Linked DNA regions of Homo sapiens: region 1 is linked to region 2. A link means that fine-mapping ties the variant in region 2 to the expression of a gene that starts in the linked region. Tissue or cell type: prostate. Region 2 holds a variant in brackets; the other region holds the start of a gene. All regions are shown on one strand. Distances are from middle to middle.

Evidence for each region. PIP is the estimated chance that this variant, and not a neighbour inherited with it, causes the effect.
Region 1: PGPEP1 starts here. The variant in region 2 is fine-mapped to the expression of PGPEP1 in prostate (GTEx, PIP above 0.99).

The regions. Positions count from the first base shown.
Region 1 is chr19:18,336,406-18,344,491 of GRCh38, reverse strand. PGPEP1 (pyroglutamyl-peptidase I) reads right to left here and starts at 3,894. Exons shown (of 5, transcript NM_017712.4): 1 at 3,777-3,894; 2 at 1,581-1,633. The coding sequence starts at 3,810. RefSeq lists enhancers at 1-557, 3,337-4,024 and a silencer at 3,856-4,045.
Region 2 is chr19:18,360,990-18,368,989 of GRCh38, reverse strand. PGPEP1 (pyroglutamyl-peptidase I) reads right to left here. Exons shown (of 5, transcript NM_017712.4): 5 at 1-5,599. The coding sequence ends at 5,407. Among named protein-coding and RNA genes, the nearest start is that of GDF15, 21 kb to the left of the region's middle. RefSeq lists enhancers at 3,777-4,071, 6,221-7,006. The variant G/T (reference allele first, on the strand shown) is at 4,125.

The DNA.
Region 1 (8,086 bases), 25 kb after region 2:
GATTTTTCTCCAAATCTAGGATTCTGGAATGGGAACAGAGGTTACTTTAAATCAGGCAGCTCATAGGCTAGGATAAACAGGGGTTTGGCTCTGGTCTCTGCCGATCTGATTTATATAACGAGAAAACACTTCCGTCTTTCTCTCTGTGCATTGCTCCCCAGCCTGTCCCTACAAAATACTCCATCTGGAAAAGAAACTAGAAAGGTTTTGCAGACTGGCATCTTCTTCAGGGCACCAGGAATGACAGCCCCCCTCGGCCCCTAATATGCCATCTTTTCCTCCCCCAGCTGCGAGGAGATGACAGCGAGGCTCACTGTACCCCTTCCTACAAGGTCAAGATATGTTCCCCTGCCACCCCACCCCACATATTCCTGCCTGGTCCTTCCTGAACCATGAATTACCTGCCTAAAACATACCAGAGAATTCTCACTTTGGCTGTTCAGAAACCAACCTGAGTCACGATTTGTCTGAGTCAATGGAAAAGATTTTTAAAAAGGAGGGAGATCCTGGCCGGGGGTAGTGGCTCACACCTGTAATCCCAGCACTTTGGGAGGCCGAGGTGGGTGGATCACCTGAAGTCAGGAGTTTGAGACCAGTCTGGCCATCATGGTGAAACCCCATCTCTACTAAAAATAGAAAAAAGTAGCCAGGCGTGGTAGCAGGTGCCTGTAATCCCAGCTACTCTGGAGGCTGAGGCAGGAGAATCGCTTGAACCCAGAAGGCAAGGTTGCAGTGAGCCAAGATCGCGCCACTGCACTCCAGCCTGGGCAACAGAGTGAGATTTCGTCTCAAAAAAAAAAAAAAAAAAAAAAGAGGGAGATCCTAGAGTTGGATAATTCCTAGGTAAAGTAGACGCCAGCACCACATAAACAGCTGTGTCCTGGAAACCAGCTACGTTTATATCCACACCTGGCCCTCCAGACCCAGATCTGTAGCCGCTGGCCAGGGCCTGGGGCACTTCTGAGGCAATGCCACTCCCATTTCTTGGCTGTGTGACCTCGGAGAACTCCCTTCATCCCTCCTCTGGGCCTCAGTTTCCTATTCTGTTAAGTGGGCACAAGAATAACTACACGTACTATGCATGGGTTGTTGGGAGGATTCAGAGCGCTGGGGTACAAACACTCAACAGATGTGTGCTCCGGTGGTTACCATCCAGGAAGAGATGTGGATCCGACATCGTTTTTTAAGAGCTGGCTGGGCGTAGTGGCTCACGCCTGTAATTCCAGCATTTTAAGAGGCTGAGGCAGGAGGATTACTTGAGGTCAGGAGTTCGAGACCAGCCTGGCCAACATGGTGAAACCCCGACTCTACTAAAAATACAAAAATTAGCCGGGCGTGGTGGCAGCCACCTATAATCTCTGCCACTCTGGAGGCTGAGGTGGGAGAATCGCTTAAACCCAGGAGGCGAAGGTTGCAGTGGGCTGAGATTGTGCCATTGCATTCCAGCCTGGGTGACAGAGTAAGATTTCGTCTCAAAAAAAAAAAAAAGTTTTTGTTAAAAGGGGACCTTCTTGGATGCCATAACTTTCTGGGGTGTGCCCAGCTCCAAGCCTGACTCCCACCCTCCGGATCTAAGTTACCTGAACTGCAATCCAACTGGCGTTCACGGTGTGTTCCCCAAAAGGGCCAAATCCTGAAAAAACAGGAAAAGCAATATATTACCCAAGAGTGGCCCTTCCCAGTCTGCCCCTGGCCTGGCCGCTACTCCCACCTGGAGAAGCAAGAAAGGAGCTTCAGGGCGCAGCTGCCAAGGACAACATTGGGGGCCTGGTCCTGAGTTCTGGGAGCACCTGGAGGCCCGTCAGAGCCGCCGTCCTGCACCTGTCCGCTCTGAAGTCAATGAGTCCCTTCCTGTCTTCACCTCCACCTGCCCCTCATGCTCAGCCAGGGGCCAGAGGTATCTTCTGCCTCCGAAAAGGTCCTGATCCTGTCTTCACTTCCTCTGGTCCCCTTGACTCAACCTACAATTATTGTGTCACTGTCCCAAAATGCCCTGAATCGGCACCAAATGAGGAATGAGCCCTCCAGGCTGTCTAGATTTCACCTTGTCACCCTCCTCCCTGCTAGCTCAAACTCCAGGCCCCCTTTCCAAAACACGACAGTCGCCCAAGGCTGTGCTAAGTGATCTTCCTGGCATTAAGCCTGGCCACATCCCCTTTCAGGCAAGGGTGTTTCCTAGGCCCAGTTTCCAGGAGCAGGGACTGAGGCACAGAGAGGTGAAGCTAGCTGCCCAAGGTCACACAGCAAGAAGGTGAAAAAGCTGGGATTCAAATCCAGATCTGGGGCTGGGTGCGGTGGCTCATGCCTGTAATTCCAGCACTTTGGGAGGCCAAGGCGGGCGGATCACCTGAGGTCAGAAGTTTGAGACCAGCCTGGCCAACATGGTGAAACCCCGTTTCTACTAAAAATACAAAAAATTAACCAGATGGGGTGATGCGTGCCCGTAATTCCAGCTACTCAGGAGGCTGAGGCAGGAGAATCGCTTGAACCCAGGAGGCGAAGGTTGCAGTGAGCCGAGATCGCGCCGTTGTGCTCCAGCTTGGGCAACAAGAGCAAAACTCCGTCTCAAAAAAAAAAAAATACGGTCCATCTGGGCCAGTGATCCCACAGGATATGAATGCTATGCAGAGATGCTGTAGCCTGGGATAGCAGGTAGGGGCTGTGGCTCAGGAGGGGACCTCCTAACTCTATCCTTCTGTACAGCCAAAGTTTGAGTCTCAGCTCAGCCCCTTACAAACTGGATGACCTCTGTGAGCCTCAGTTTCCCTTTCTGCAAAATGGAGACAGTAAAGATGTAATCAGCTCATGCAAAAAGTGCTGGAATAAATAACCAGATAAAGGAAGGCTGGAAGGGATGGGGGCAGTGACCCTCCTCCCAATTATACACACCTGTTAAGCAGGTGCCTTGTTTCTTCCTTCTTCCCTGAATCTCCTGGATCAGCCTCAATCTCCCTTCAACAGCCACAAAACACCTGTGTGCACCTTTGCTGGATTTCCCACTCTGACCCCTCCAGACAGCAGGTCAAAATGACCCCCCCACTCCTTGACTCTGAGGCCCCAGCGGAAGTTGGCGCCCCACGTGGCCCCGAGGCGGAGTCTCAGGGAGGAGAAACAGTTGGTTTGGGGGTGGGGGGGAGTCGGTGACAGCAGGGGCCCTGACTCACCAACAAACAGCCCTGGCACAAAACACAAAAAGGTTTCCGCTGAAGACAGTCCCTGGGACAGCTGGGAGAGCCCGAGGTCCCCGGACCCCCACCTGCCCCTGCCTTGGGAGAGTAGCCCCCCAGGAGCGCAGGGCGCGGCGAGCAGTGACTGGGAGGTTCATTTGTCACTGGGACACTTCCTGCCCGCAAATCGGCCTTTGTCCCCTGGGGCCAGGGGTTGGGGGAGCGGTGTGGGGACAGGCTGGACCTCGGAAGGGGCAGGGAGGAAGGGTCCAGTCCAGCCCGCAGGCCAGACAGAGGAGGCAGGTGCCAGGAGGGTCACCATCCCCACCTTGGGAGGAAAGGACGCCAGGGGGGCCTGCGCAGCGCCGGGCTTTTGCCCGGCCCCCCAAGCCCCGCGCCCGACTGCCCTGACTCCCGACCCTGGGACCCCCAAGGCTCCTCCTCCTCCACTTTCCAGGAAGCCTGGGCTGCGCGGGGCTCCCGCGGGTGATGACACCTTCCAAATCTGAGAGGACTTCCAGCACCTGCCCCTCTCGGCCCCGCAGTCCCGGAGCCGCCCCCGCCTCTGCCCCCGGCCGCTGCCGCTACAGCCCCCATCAGCCAGCGTACCCGTCACTACCACCGCCTTCCTCGGCTGCTCCATGGCGGGATCGGGCTGTGCCTCGGACCTGCTTCTGTTGCGACTGGCGCGACAGCTGCTGCCGCTGCAGCCTCTCGGCCGCGCGAGGCCACGCCCCTGTCAAGCCCCCGGCCTCGCCCCCGGTCAGCCGCTCGGCGTGCGCGCCCCCGGGCCCGAGACGCAGCGTGCGCGCCCTGCGCCCCGCCCCCGTCGGCTAGGCCCGGTATTCCCCAGCCTCCGTTTCCCCGTCTGCAAAATGGGAACATCTTATGCCGTAGTGTGTAGCCGCTTGCACGCACTGAGCCAGGTGCTGGGGATGAGCCGGTCCTTTATTCTGCAAGGGTTCATTGAGGGCCTGCCCTATGCATGCATACTGCGCAGAATTAGGGAGGGAAGTCCCCGCGAGCAAGGCCCGTTTTCCAGATAAGGAAACTGAGGCACAGAATGCCACTTCCCCGAGGTCACTCGCCTCAAGGGGTCACAGGAGCAGCATTCAGGCCAGGAAGTTGGCGGGGGTGGGGGAGGACAGAGTAAAAAAGGAAAAACACGACAACCATATTTGTGTGGTGCCAGAAGTTTCTCTGCAGGCCCCCATGGTCCTAGGAGGCTAATGGGGGAGGGCGATTGTACCTGCTGTTCCCTCTGCCGGAACACACCCCGCAGGTACCTGCGAAGCTGGCCTCCTTCAGGCCTCAGCTCCAGTGTTCCAATGTCGCCTCCTCCCAGGGGCCCTCCTCCTGTCCTGGCTGTCACCTCCTCCGAGGGGTGAACTGTCACTTTCTCCTTGTGGCCTTCTCTGGCTATCACCTCCCTGCTATCCTATTACCTCCTCTGAGGGTTCCTTCTGGCCCTCCTTGGCTGAAATGACCTCACTGCTACCCCCCAGTGGTTCCATCTCATTCCCTGGTTCCATCCTCTTCATAGCAATAAAGCTCAGAAATAATTTCCTTTCTCTCTCTTTTTTTTGGAGACAGGGTCTCACTCTGTTACCCAGGCTGGAGTGCAGTGGCAAAATCATAGCTCTGTAACTTTGACCTCCAGGGCTCAACTGATCCTCACATCTCAGCCTCCTGAGTAGCTGGGACTACAGGTGTGTGGCACCACACCCAGCTAATTTTTGTATTTTTGTAGAGATGGGGGTTTCATAGTGTTGCACAGGCTGGTCTCGAACTCCCGAGCTCAAGCAATCCGCACACCTTGGCCTCCCAAAAGTGCTGGGATTACAGGTGTAAACCAGCACACCTGGCCAGAAATCATTTTTAATTTTTTTTAGCTTTTAAGTTTTGGGGTACATGTGCAGGTTTGTTATATAGATAAACTCGTGTCATGGGGTTTGTTGTACAGATTATTTAGTCCCCCAGGTATTATTAAGCAGAAATTATATATGTATTTATTTATTTGAGACGTAGTTTCACTCTTGTCACCCAGGCTGGAGTGCAGTGGTGTGATCTTGGCTCACTGCAACCTCTGCCTCCCGGGTTCAAGCAATTCTCCCACCTCAGCCTCCCAAGTAGCTGGGATTACAGGCGAGTGCCGCCATACCCAGCTAATTTTGTATTTTTAGTAGAGAGGGAGGTTCACCATGTTGGCCAGGCTGGTCTCGAACTCCTGACTTCAGGTGATCCACCCTTTTCAGCTCCCAAAGTGCTGGGATTACAGGCGTGAACCACTGCCTCCGGCCCCCTCCCCAGGTATTATTAAGCAGAAATCATTTAGTATGGTCACAGCCTCTCTGGTTGGCTTCCCGTTTCCTCCGACATAGAGATGAGAACTTCTAGAGGAGGAAGCGTTGTTCTGTTAGAGCTGCGTCTCAACACCCAGCACATCCCCAGGCACATTCTGCCAACATTCATCAGAGACCAGAATTCCTCTAAAAACAGGTAGAAAATGAAAGCTGAGTTTCTGGCCACATCTTCAGAAACAGGACTGGACCTTGGACTTGGGTCACGAATTTTTTTTTTTTTTTTTTTTTTAGACAGGATCTTGTTCTTTTGCCCAGGCTGGAGAGCAATGGAGCGATCACAGCTCACTGCAGCCTTAATCTCCAAGGCTAAAGCAATTCTTCCACCTCAGCCTCCCGAGTAGCTGGGACTACAGGCGCGTGCTGCCATGCCCGGCTAATTTTTATATTTTTTGTAGGGACGAGGTCTTGCTATGTTGCCTGTTTGGGTTGGTCTTGAAATCCTGGGCTCAAGCAATCCTCCTGCCTCAGCCTCCTAAAGTGCTGGGATAACAGGCATGAGCCAGAACTCCTGACTGTGTGGTTCACTGATAGCCCGTTCCACTTTGACTTTGCCATCATTCGCCAAGACACTATGGTTTTTTGTTTGTTTGTTTGAGACAGAGTCTCACTCTGTCGCCCAGGCTGGGGTGCAATAGCACGATCTAGGCTCACTACAACCTCCGGCCCCTGGGTTCAAGCGATTCTCCTGCCTCAGCCTCCTGAATAGCTGGGACTACCAGCACCTGCCACCGTGCCCGGCTAATTTTTGCATTTTTAGTAGGGATGGGGTTTCACCATGTTGGCCAGGCTGGTCTTGAACTCCTGACATCAGGTGATCTGCCTGCCTTGGCCTCCCAAAGTGCTGAGATTACAGACATGAGCCACCGTGCCCAGCTGGTACTATGGTGTTTACTGGCTCCACCCCCGAATTCCTCCAACACCAAGGGCAGAGTTCTCTAGACTGCCCCTGAGCCCTGTTTGGAAGCCCACACCCCAGGTCACACGCTCAGTGGCTATTTTGGTCTTTAGCAGCTTCAGGTAGAATGCAGAACATCAGAGAGCTGTCTGAGCTGGCCAGGGAATGAGGTCCAAGCCAAGAGGGAGAAAAGAGCAGATCAAAACACTAACCTGGCCAGGCGCAGTGGCTCACGCCTGTAATCCCAGCACTTTGGGAGGCCGAGGCAGGCGGATCACTTGAGGTCAGGAATTCGAGACCAGCCTGGCCAACATGGTGAAACCCTGTCTCTACTAAAAATGCAAAAAACTAGCAGTGAGTGGTGGCGCGTGCCTGTAGTCCCAGCTACTGGGGAGGCTGAGCCAGGAGAATCACTTGAACCCAGGAGGCGGAAGTTGCAGTGAGCTGAGATCGTGCCACTGCACTCCAGCCTAAGCGACAGAGCGAGACTCCGTCTCAGAAAAAAACAAAACAAAACAAAAAAACCACTCACCCAAAGGCAGGTTTTATAACCTGAATATGTCATACGTGCCTGGTGTGGAGTATGTGCGTTGCTAGAAGAGGGAAGGCGAGAGGGAAGTGACAGTGGATTTTAGTTTCCTCAATTGCAATGGGAGGAACGAAAACATGTAGAGTCAGCAGTGATGGGGAGAAACTGAGTCATGCCCCACTGCCCCAGTGACTGGCGTAAAGGCTAATGTTCACTCGTAGCCCTAATCATGTTTGGGCCATATTTTTGTTTTTTGAGATATGATCTTGCTTTGTCTCACAGACTGGAGCACAGTGGCACAGTCACAGCTCACTGCAGCTTCCACCCCCTGGGGTCAAGCCATCCTCCCACCCCAGCCTCCCAAGTAACTGGGACTACAGGCATGTGCCACCATGCCCAACTTGGAGGAACTTTTTTTTTTGAGACTGTCACCCAGGCCGGAGTGCAGTGGCACGATCTTGGCTCACTGCAGCCTCTGTCTCCCAGGTTCAAGTCATTCTTCTGCCTCAGCCTCCCAAATAGCTGGGACTACAGGTGCACGCCACCATGCTTGGCTAATTTTTGTATTCTTAGTAGAGATGGGGTTTCTCCATGTTGGCTAGGCTGGTCTCAAACTCCTGACCTCAAGTGATCTGCCCGCCTCGGCCGGGGTTGGGGGGCAGTGGTTTGTAGTAACATGTACATAACATAAAATTTACCATCTTAAGCATACCCTTGGGTAGCATTAAGTACGTTCACATTGTTGTGGAACCATTACCACCATCCATCTCCAGAACTTGTTCTTCCCAAACAAGCTCCATACCTATTAAACGCTCCCTCCCTATTCCCCTCCCTCAGCCCCTAGCACCCAACATTCCACTTTCTGTCTCTATGAATTGGATGACTGTGGCTGGGTGTGGTGGCCCATGCCTATAATCCCAGCACTTTGGGAGGCTGAGGCAGGTGGATTGCTTGAGGCCAGGAGTTCAAGACCAGCCTGGCCAACATGGGAAAACCCTGTCTCTTAAAAATACAAAAATATTAGCCAGGCATGGTGGTGAAACGGGAAAGGTTCCCTTGTTCCCCTCGCAGGGTGGGCGATGGGGGTGTGGCTTGCTTCTGAAGTGCTCCTCTACTCAGACCTCTAGGGGAG
Region 2 (8,000 bases):
GCCCAGGGAAGGGAAATTTAATCCGGATTATAAAAACAAAGCCCTCTCCTGCCCCCTCAAGTTAGGATGCTGAGGATGGGTGGCTGCATGGGGCAACCTGGCAAAGACCTGCCTCCTTGACCATGATCAGCACCCCATGCTGGCCGTCACGCAGCTCCCAGAGGCCTCAGGATAGAGGCTGGGGCTGCGGAGAATAGGGCTTTGTCCAGCTGTCTCCAAAAGGGACGTCTAGGTTCAGACGCCACAAGAGGCAGAGAGGTCAAAGGCCAACAGTCTAGACAGTGGCAGCCAAAAGGGGGCCAGCTGTGCGGGACAGATTTCCATGAGCCATCCCCCTCCACCTGGTCACCTCCCCAGGGCACTGGAGTGCAGGTGTAAACATACCAGCTGGTCTTGCTTCCTGGAAGAAACTTCCAAGACTAAAAGGCATCTTGAATCTACTTTTCCAGCTCTCCCATCTGCCCCAGAGTGGATACTTTCTGTTCTAGATGTTTCTATGCCAGCAACGAGCAGAAAAGCAGAGCAGGGAATTCTTTTTTTTTTTTTTTTTTGTGACAGAGTCTTGCTATGTTGCCCAGTCTGGAATGCAGTGGCGTGATCTCACACCACTGCAACCTCTGCCTCCCAGGTTCAAGCAATTCTCCTGTCTCAGCCTCCCAGGTAGCTGGGATTACAGGCACGCACCATCCACTCTTGACTAATTTTTGTATTTTTAGTAGAGATGGGGTTTTGCTATGTTGGCCAGGCTGGTCGCAAACTCCTGGCCTCAAGCGATCAGTCTGCCTTGGCCTCCCAAAGTGCTGGGATAACAGGCATAAGCCACTGCGCCTGGCCCCCCTTTTTTTTTTCTTAATTTTGAGGCAGGGTCTTGCTCTGTTGCCCAGGCTGGGGTACAGTAGTGTAATCATGGCTCATTGCAGCCTTCACCTCCTGGGCTCAGATAAGCCTCCCAACTCAGCCTCCCAAGTAGCTGGGACTACAGGTGCTTGACACCACAACTGGCTAATTTTTTTTTTTAATTTCTGTAGAGATGGGGTCTCGCCATGTTGCCCAGGGCTGGTCTCGAACTCCCGGGCTCAAGCAATCCTCCCACCTCAGCCTCCCAAAGCACTGGGATCACAGACATGAACCATCTCCAGGATTCCCCTCCTTGCCGAGAAACTACTGCCATCTGGGACATTTCCTTCACACATCTGGCTCTGATGGGGAAGCTGTGATTTCGGCCCCCACCCCCTGTCCCTGCCCAGCCCTGCCTCTCCAAGTGGCCTCAGGTTTGTTCCAGCCCTTGATTGGAGCAGGTGGGCTAGGTGGCCCCAAGCTCAGCCCACCCACCTTGAATTCCTGCTTCTTCCTTTCTTTCCTTTCCACTCCATCTTATTTCTTTTTTGAGCTACATCCCCACACGCATGCAACTGACCTTCTTTGGGGTGGGGAGGGGGTGCTAGGGGCCGAATAAAGGAATAAAAGTGCGCAGACTTGGGCATCTTAAAAGAGATGCCATCATCAAGTTGGTCAGGGTACCAGGTGCCCTGATCACTGTCCCTGCACCCCTGTTCCCTGCCTCAGCACCCTCCATGAGGACTCATCAGGGAAGCCCCCCCAATCACTTCTCACCTTTCTCCCCCAGCCTTCCCACCACACCCCTCAGCCTGTCTTTTCACCATTGACACTTGCCACCCCTATTCCTCTTCCCAACACCTGCCAAGTCCCACCCACCTTGCAGACCCTTCCTATGCCACCTGTAGCCCCTACCCCAGGCTCTGAAAATGAGGCAAGAGGGAATGGGACTTGGTCCTTCCCTTCTTGCATGAGGATTTTTTTTTTTTTTTTTTTTGAGACAGAGTCTTGCTGTGTCACCCGGGCTGGACTACAGTGGTGTGATCATGGCTCACTGGGGCTTCAACCTCCCAGGCATAGGTGATCCTCCTGCCTCAGCCTCCTGAGTATCTGGGACCACAGGCATGCACCACCACATCTGGCTAATTCTTGTATGTTTTGGTAGATATGGGATCTCTTGCTATGTTGCCCAGGCTGGTCTTGAACTCCTGGCTCAAGGGATTCTCCTGCCTCAACCTCCCAAAGTGCTAGGATTACAGGTGTGAGTAACCACACCTAGCCCACATGAGGATATTTTAAGCCAAGACCCAACAAAGGTGGAAAAACACACCAGAGAGTGCACAGATGAGTTCCACCAAAAGAAAAATATTTGTAAAAAACTTGGCCAGGCGCAGTAGCTCACACCTGTAATCCCAGCACTTTGGGAGGCCAAGGCAGGCAGATCACCTGAGGTCAGGATTTCAAGACCAGCCTGGCCAACATGGTGAAGCTGCATCTCTACTAAAAATACAAAAATTAGCCAGGTGTGGTGACGGGCGCCTGTAATCCCAGCTACTCGGGAGGCTGAGGCAGGAGAATTGTGTAAACCCAGGAGGTGGAGGTTGCAGTGAGCCGAGATCACGCCATTGCACTCTAGCCCGAGTAACAGTGTGAGAATCCATCTCAAAAAATAAAAATAAAAAATAACAATGAGAAAAATAAAATGAGCCAAATGTTGTGCATTATGAGGAAGGATGGGATACTGGCTTGACTGGGTAAGGAAATGTGAAACCACTGCAAGAATACAAAGATGACACACACACACGTGACAATGAGCAGACAATAGGTTATATCTCTAAGGAGCTATGTCACACAGTGCTTTAAACACAGAGGTGAAATGAAGACAAAAGAAAGATGGAAGTGTGGAGCCCGGGGCAGGTGCTTAGCTCAGTTCAGGCCTGGCACATCCCCTTCCCCATTTTGTCCCTGTCTTGGCTAGACCTGTTTTCTCCTCAGAGGCCCACAGACCAGACCTTTGAGGAATAGAGCAAGATGAAACCTGAAGTTGCTTTCCACCAGACCTCTGGGTGACCCCTGAGTCTTCAGTTGTTCCCCACATTCAAAAGAGGCCACAGCTTCCCTTCACAGAAGCTGGGGGGACAGATGCAGTGATGTCTCCCACACTCTGGATTTCTCAGGACACAGAGCTACCAGGGGTGTGGAGGGGGCATTTCCAGCAAAAAAAAAAGCTGGCATGGAGGGAACAATAGTGTCCCTACTCATTTCCACCTGTCAGTTACAGTCCACACCCACTGCCAGGCGCCCACTGCAAGTCACCCGCCAGCATCCACCTTCCCCTCCAGAGAAAGCCCAAGACTTGGAAAATGTGTTTCACAGAAACCCATCAACCCCGTTCCCAAACTATCTAGAAACCCAACAGAGGTAGGAACCACTGCCAGCATCGGAACTGGAGACAAGGAAGGTGAACGCTGAAGAAAACAAAACTCTCAGCTGTTTTAAGAAAGAACTGGGCTGGGTGCAGTGGCTCATGCCTGTAATCCCAGCACTTTGGGAGGCCGAGAAAGGAGGATCAGTTTGAGTCCAGGAGTTCGAGACCAGCCTGGGCAACATGGTGAAACCCTGTCTGTATAAAAAATTTAAAAATTAGCCAGGTGTGGTGGTGCATGCCTGTAGTCCCAGCTACTCAGGAGGCTGAGATGGGAGGATCACTTGAGCCCAGGAGGTAGAGGCTGCAGTGATCCATGATCACACTACTGTACTCCAGCCTGGTCAACAGAACAAGACCCTATCATAAAAACAAACAAACAAACAAAAACCTAGATGTTGGGAAACCAACAAGATTAGATTCCAACTGTGTCACACTCAGGGAAGCAGTATAGCCACATTCCTCCAGGCCAAAATAGAAACTGATTTCCAGAACGTGCATTTCACTCAATTACTTTCACTGTGGGGGTCGTCCTCTCTCCCTAATGGGCAGCAAGATGTGGCTGAACTTACATCATCTGAGGAAGTTTACGTCATCTCATCCCTGCCTGGTAAGTTCAAGGTTACCAGGAAGTGAGATAAAAATCAACTCCTGACTCCTGGGCGAGTGTCCAAAAGCAATCTACATAAAACCCTTTGGCCGCCCGGAATTCCTCCTGCTCAGACATGCCGGGACATGCAGAGCTCTGCCAACTCCAGCCCCCGCGCCCCCGTTTTGAGCCCCCCGCGCCACCCCGCTAAGGAGAACAACAAACTCGTCCCAGCACCAAAACCCTGAAGCTCCAGGCCAGAAGTAGGGGGGG[G/T]TTTCCGCTGATGTGGAGTTTTACATATTAAAAAAGAAAAGTCAAAAGCAGACAAAATCCGCCTTTCCACAGGTGGCCCTGGTCTCCATGGCGACAGCTCATAGCTTGGTGTTGAAAGGACCACGACCCCCATGGCCACATCTGGGGCAGCAGTCCCACCCCGTTGCCTGGCCACGGACCCCATGCCTTAAGCAAGGGGGCCTCATTTTTGGCCCTAAAACAAAGACATGCCATCTTAAGTCCAATTGTTTTGAGACAGAGTCTCGCTCTGTCACCCAGGCTGGAGTGCAGCTGTGCAATCTCAGCTCACTGCAACCTCTGCCTCCCAAGTTCAAGCGATTCTCCAGCCTCAGCCTCCCGAGTAGCTGGGACTACAGGCACTCATCACCATGCCCGGCTAATTTTTGTATTTTTAGTAGAGGCAGGGTTTCACCATGTTGGCCAGGCTGATCTTGAACTCCTGATCTCAGGTGATCCGCCCACCCTGGCCTTCCAAAGTGCTGGGATTACAGGCATGAGCCACTGCGCCTGGCCAAGACATGGCATCTTAAGTCCAATTTTCAGGGCAGGAGGCAAAAGTGGCATCACCCTGGTGGGCGAGTGGGGGTGGGGGGAAAACACTTTTGTTGTTGGCTAAAAAGCCTGCATTTTAACCAAAGGGAATATAAATTACTCTGTGCCCAAACTAGCACTATTTAAAAAAAAAAAAAAAGAGAGAGAGAGAAGAAAGAAAGCAAGAAAGAAAGAAAGCAAGAAAGAAAGAAAGAAAGAAAGAAAGAAAGCCAGCCAGCCAGCCATATCCCAGGGTGGCCCCAGAAAGGGCCAGGCTGTTGAGCACAGTTCAAGGTCGAGGACGCATTGAGAGGCTTTTAAATTTGGTAAAAGCCAGTCTTGGATATAAAATGAATTCTGAAATTCCTTCACCAACGGACAGGAAAGCAGGTGAACATATGGCCCCAGCCGTGGTATCGCAGCTCATGGATTCACCAGACCAAGATTCTCCCTGGGCATCTGGACCTCCCAGGCTGGCCTCCCTGGTCACGGCAGCTGTGTCCCCAGATGCAGGGAGGAAAATGGGAGAAAAAAAAATTTTCACCACTTCCCTCGAATCAACCGGAGCTTTTGTAGAGAAGGAGGAAGAGGAGGTGGGCAGATCAGAATCTCTCTTCCAGATCGGATCCCCAAGCTGAAGAGCTTGTCTTTTCCTGGCCACACCCCAGAGGGTGGATGTCCCCTCGTGGGGTCCCCAGCAGGATGAGGTCTTAGGAGACCTGAGCGTCCCTCAGTGTTTGTGGCAATAGTTGATTTTGCCCTCTGACTGCTCCAGGAGGTCCAACATCTCCTCAATGATGGCTCTCAGTGCCCTGCCCAGCTGGTCCGCGTTGTACGGCTTCCCCAGTGGGGGCACGTGGACGAAGGCTGATCGACCGTGACTCTGGTACAAAGAGGTGTAGTAGGTAAAGTCGCAGAGATATCTAAGCCGCAGGGCGTGGCGGGTAAGAGAGAGACCAAAACGGGGTCAGAGGGGCAATCCGTAGACCAAGGTGACAGCACCCATCCAAATCCAAGGGAAGACCTTACCAGCAACCCACAAGATGGAACAACACTCTCCTCCCTCCCCAGGTTGGCAAAGATGAAAAAAAATCACCAGAGGTGGTGGCACGTGCCTGTAGTCCCAGCTACTCAGGAGGTTGAGGCGGGAGGATTGTTTGAGCCCAGGAGGTCAAGGCTGCAGTGAGCCATGATTGCACCACTGCACTCAGCCTGGGTGAGAGAGTGAGATCCTGTCTCTTTAAAACACACACACACACACACACACACACACACACACAAACAAAAAAAACTTGATAACTCCCAGTGCTGTGGCACATGTGGGGAAATGGGCAGAGTGAGCTATTGCTGGTGGGAAGGCACGCTGGTTGTCCCCGTGTGGAAGGCAATTTGTCAGGCTAGTAAAATTATAATCACCCAGACTTTACAACCTGGTATTTCCATTTTTTGTTTATTGAGACAGGGTCTCACTCTGTCACCCAGTTTGGAGTGCAACCTGGCCTCCAGCGATCCTCCTACCCCACCCTCCTGAGTAGCTGGGACTACAGGTGTGCACCACCACCACTGGCTTTTTTTTTTTTTTTTTTTGAGACAGAGTCTGCTCTGTTGCTCAGGTTGGAGTGCAGTGGCACAATCTCAGCTCAGTGCAACTTCTGCCTCCTCGGCTCAAGTGATTCTCCTGCTTCAGCCTCCCGAGTAGCTGGGATTACGGGCGTGGGCCACACCACGTCTGGCTAATTTTTGTATTTTTAGTAGAGACAGGGTTTCACCATGCTGGCCAGGCTGTTCTGAAACTCCTGACCTGTAGTGATCCGCCTACCTCAGCCTCCCAAAGTGCTGGGATTACAGGTGTGAGCCACCGTGCCTGGCCCTATTTCCAGTTTTTATTTTTATTTATTTATTTTTTTGAGACGGAGTCATACTCTGTCACCCAGGTTGGAGTGGAGTGTTGAGATCTTGGCTCACTCCAACCTTCGCCTCCCGGGTTCAAGCGATTCTCCTGCCTCAGCCTCCCGAGTAGCTGGAATTACAGGTGCCTGCCAGCACATCCGGCTAATTTTTATGTTTTTAGTAGAGACGGGGTTTCACCATGTTGGCTAGGCAGGTCTGGAACGCCTGACCTCGAGTGATTCGCCTGCCTCGGCCTCCCAAAGTGCTGGGATTACAGGCGTGAGCCACCACGCCTGGCCTATTTCCCGTTTTTAGATCTACCCTCAGGAACCATCTGCACAAGGGTACAAGAAAGTACAAACAGGGATGCTCCCCATCGTATTATGTATAAAAGCAGGAAAACAGAAAGCAACCTAAAGCCCACTGACAGGGAGTGGCTTAGTAAACTCTGGTTTATCCACACCATGGAATCCTATGAATCTGTTTACAAGGAATGTGGTACAGCCAGAAAAAAATGGAGAACTCGCCAGATGCATGTTGAACGCTCACAAATGAAAACTAAGGATGAGAATTCTCAGTAAGTGTGACTTTCGCCATGTGACTCCATCCACGTAAAAGCAAAGCAAAACAAGATAAAATCATAAAGCAGCAGGCCAAGTGATGTATATATGTACGGAAACGTGTCAGTCAGTAGGAGCTTCATGGTTTCCGTGTCTGACTTATCAGAGGGACCGCTATGGAAAAAGAGAGGGAATGAGAATTTTTCCCAATTAGACATATGAGGATATGTTCTAGAGTTACCTATGATTAAAAATTAATTTTATAAAGAGACTGATGGAAGCTGGGTATGGTGGCTCACACCTGTAGTCCCAGCACTTTGGGAGGCTGAAGTGGGAGGATCCCTTGACTCCATGAGTTCGAGACCAGCCTGGGCAACATTGCAACACCTTGTCTCTACCAAAAATACAAAAAAATTGGGCTGGGTGGCCGGGCGCGGTGGCTCACGCCTGTAATCCCAGCACTTTGTAAGGCCAAGGCGGGTGGATCACCTGAGGTCAGGAGTTCAAGACCAGCCTGGCCAACATGCTGAAAACCTCATCTCAACTAAAAATACAAAAATTTTCTGGGCATGGTGGCAGGCACCTGTAGTCCCAGCTACTTGGGAGGCTGAGGCAGGAGAATCACTTGAACCTGGGAGGCAGAGGTTGCGGTGAGCTGAGATTCTGCCATTGCACTCCAGCCTGGGCAACAAGAGCGAAACTCTTGTCTTTAAAAAAAAAGAAAGAAAATTGAGCTGGGTGCGGAGGCTCACACCTGTAATTCTAGCACCTTGGGAGGCCAAGGTGGGCATATTGCTTGAGCTCAGAAGTTCAACACCAGCCTGGGCAACATGGTGAAACCCCATCTCTACTAAAAATACAAAAATTAGCTGGG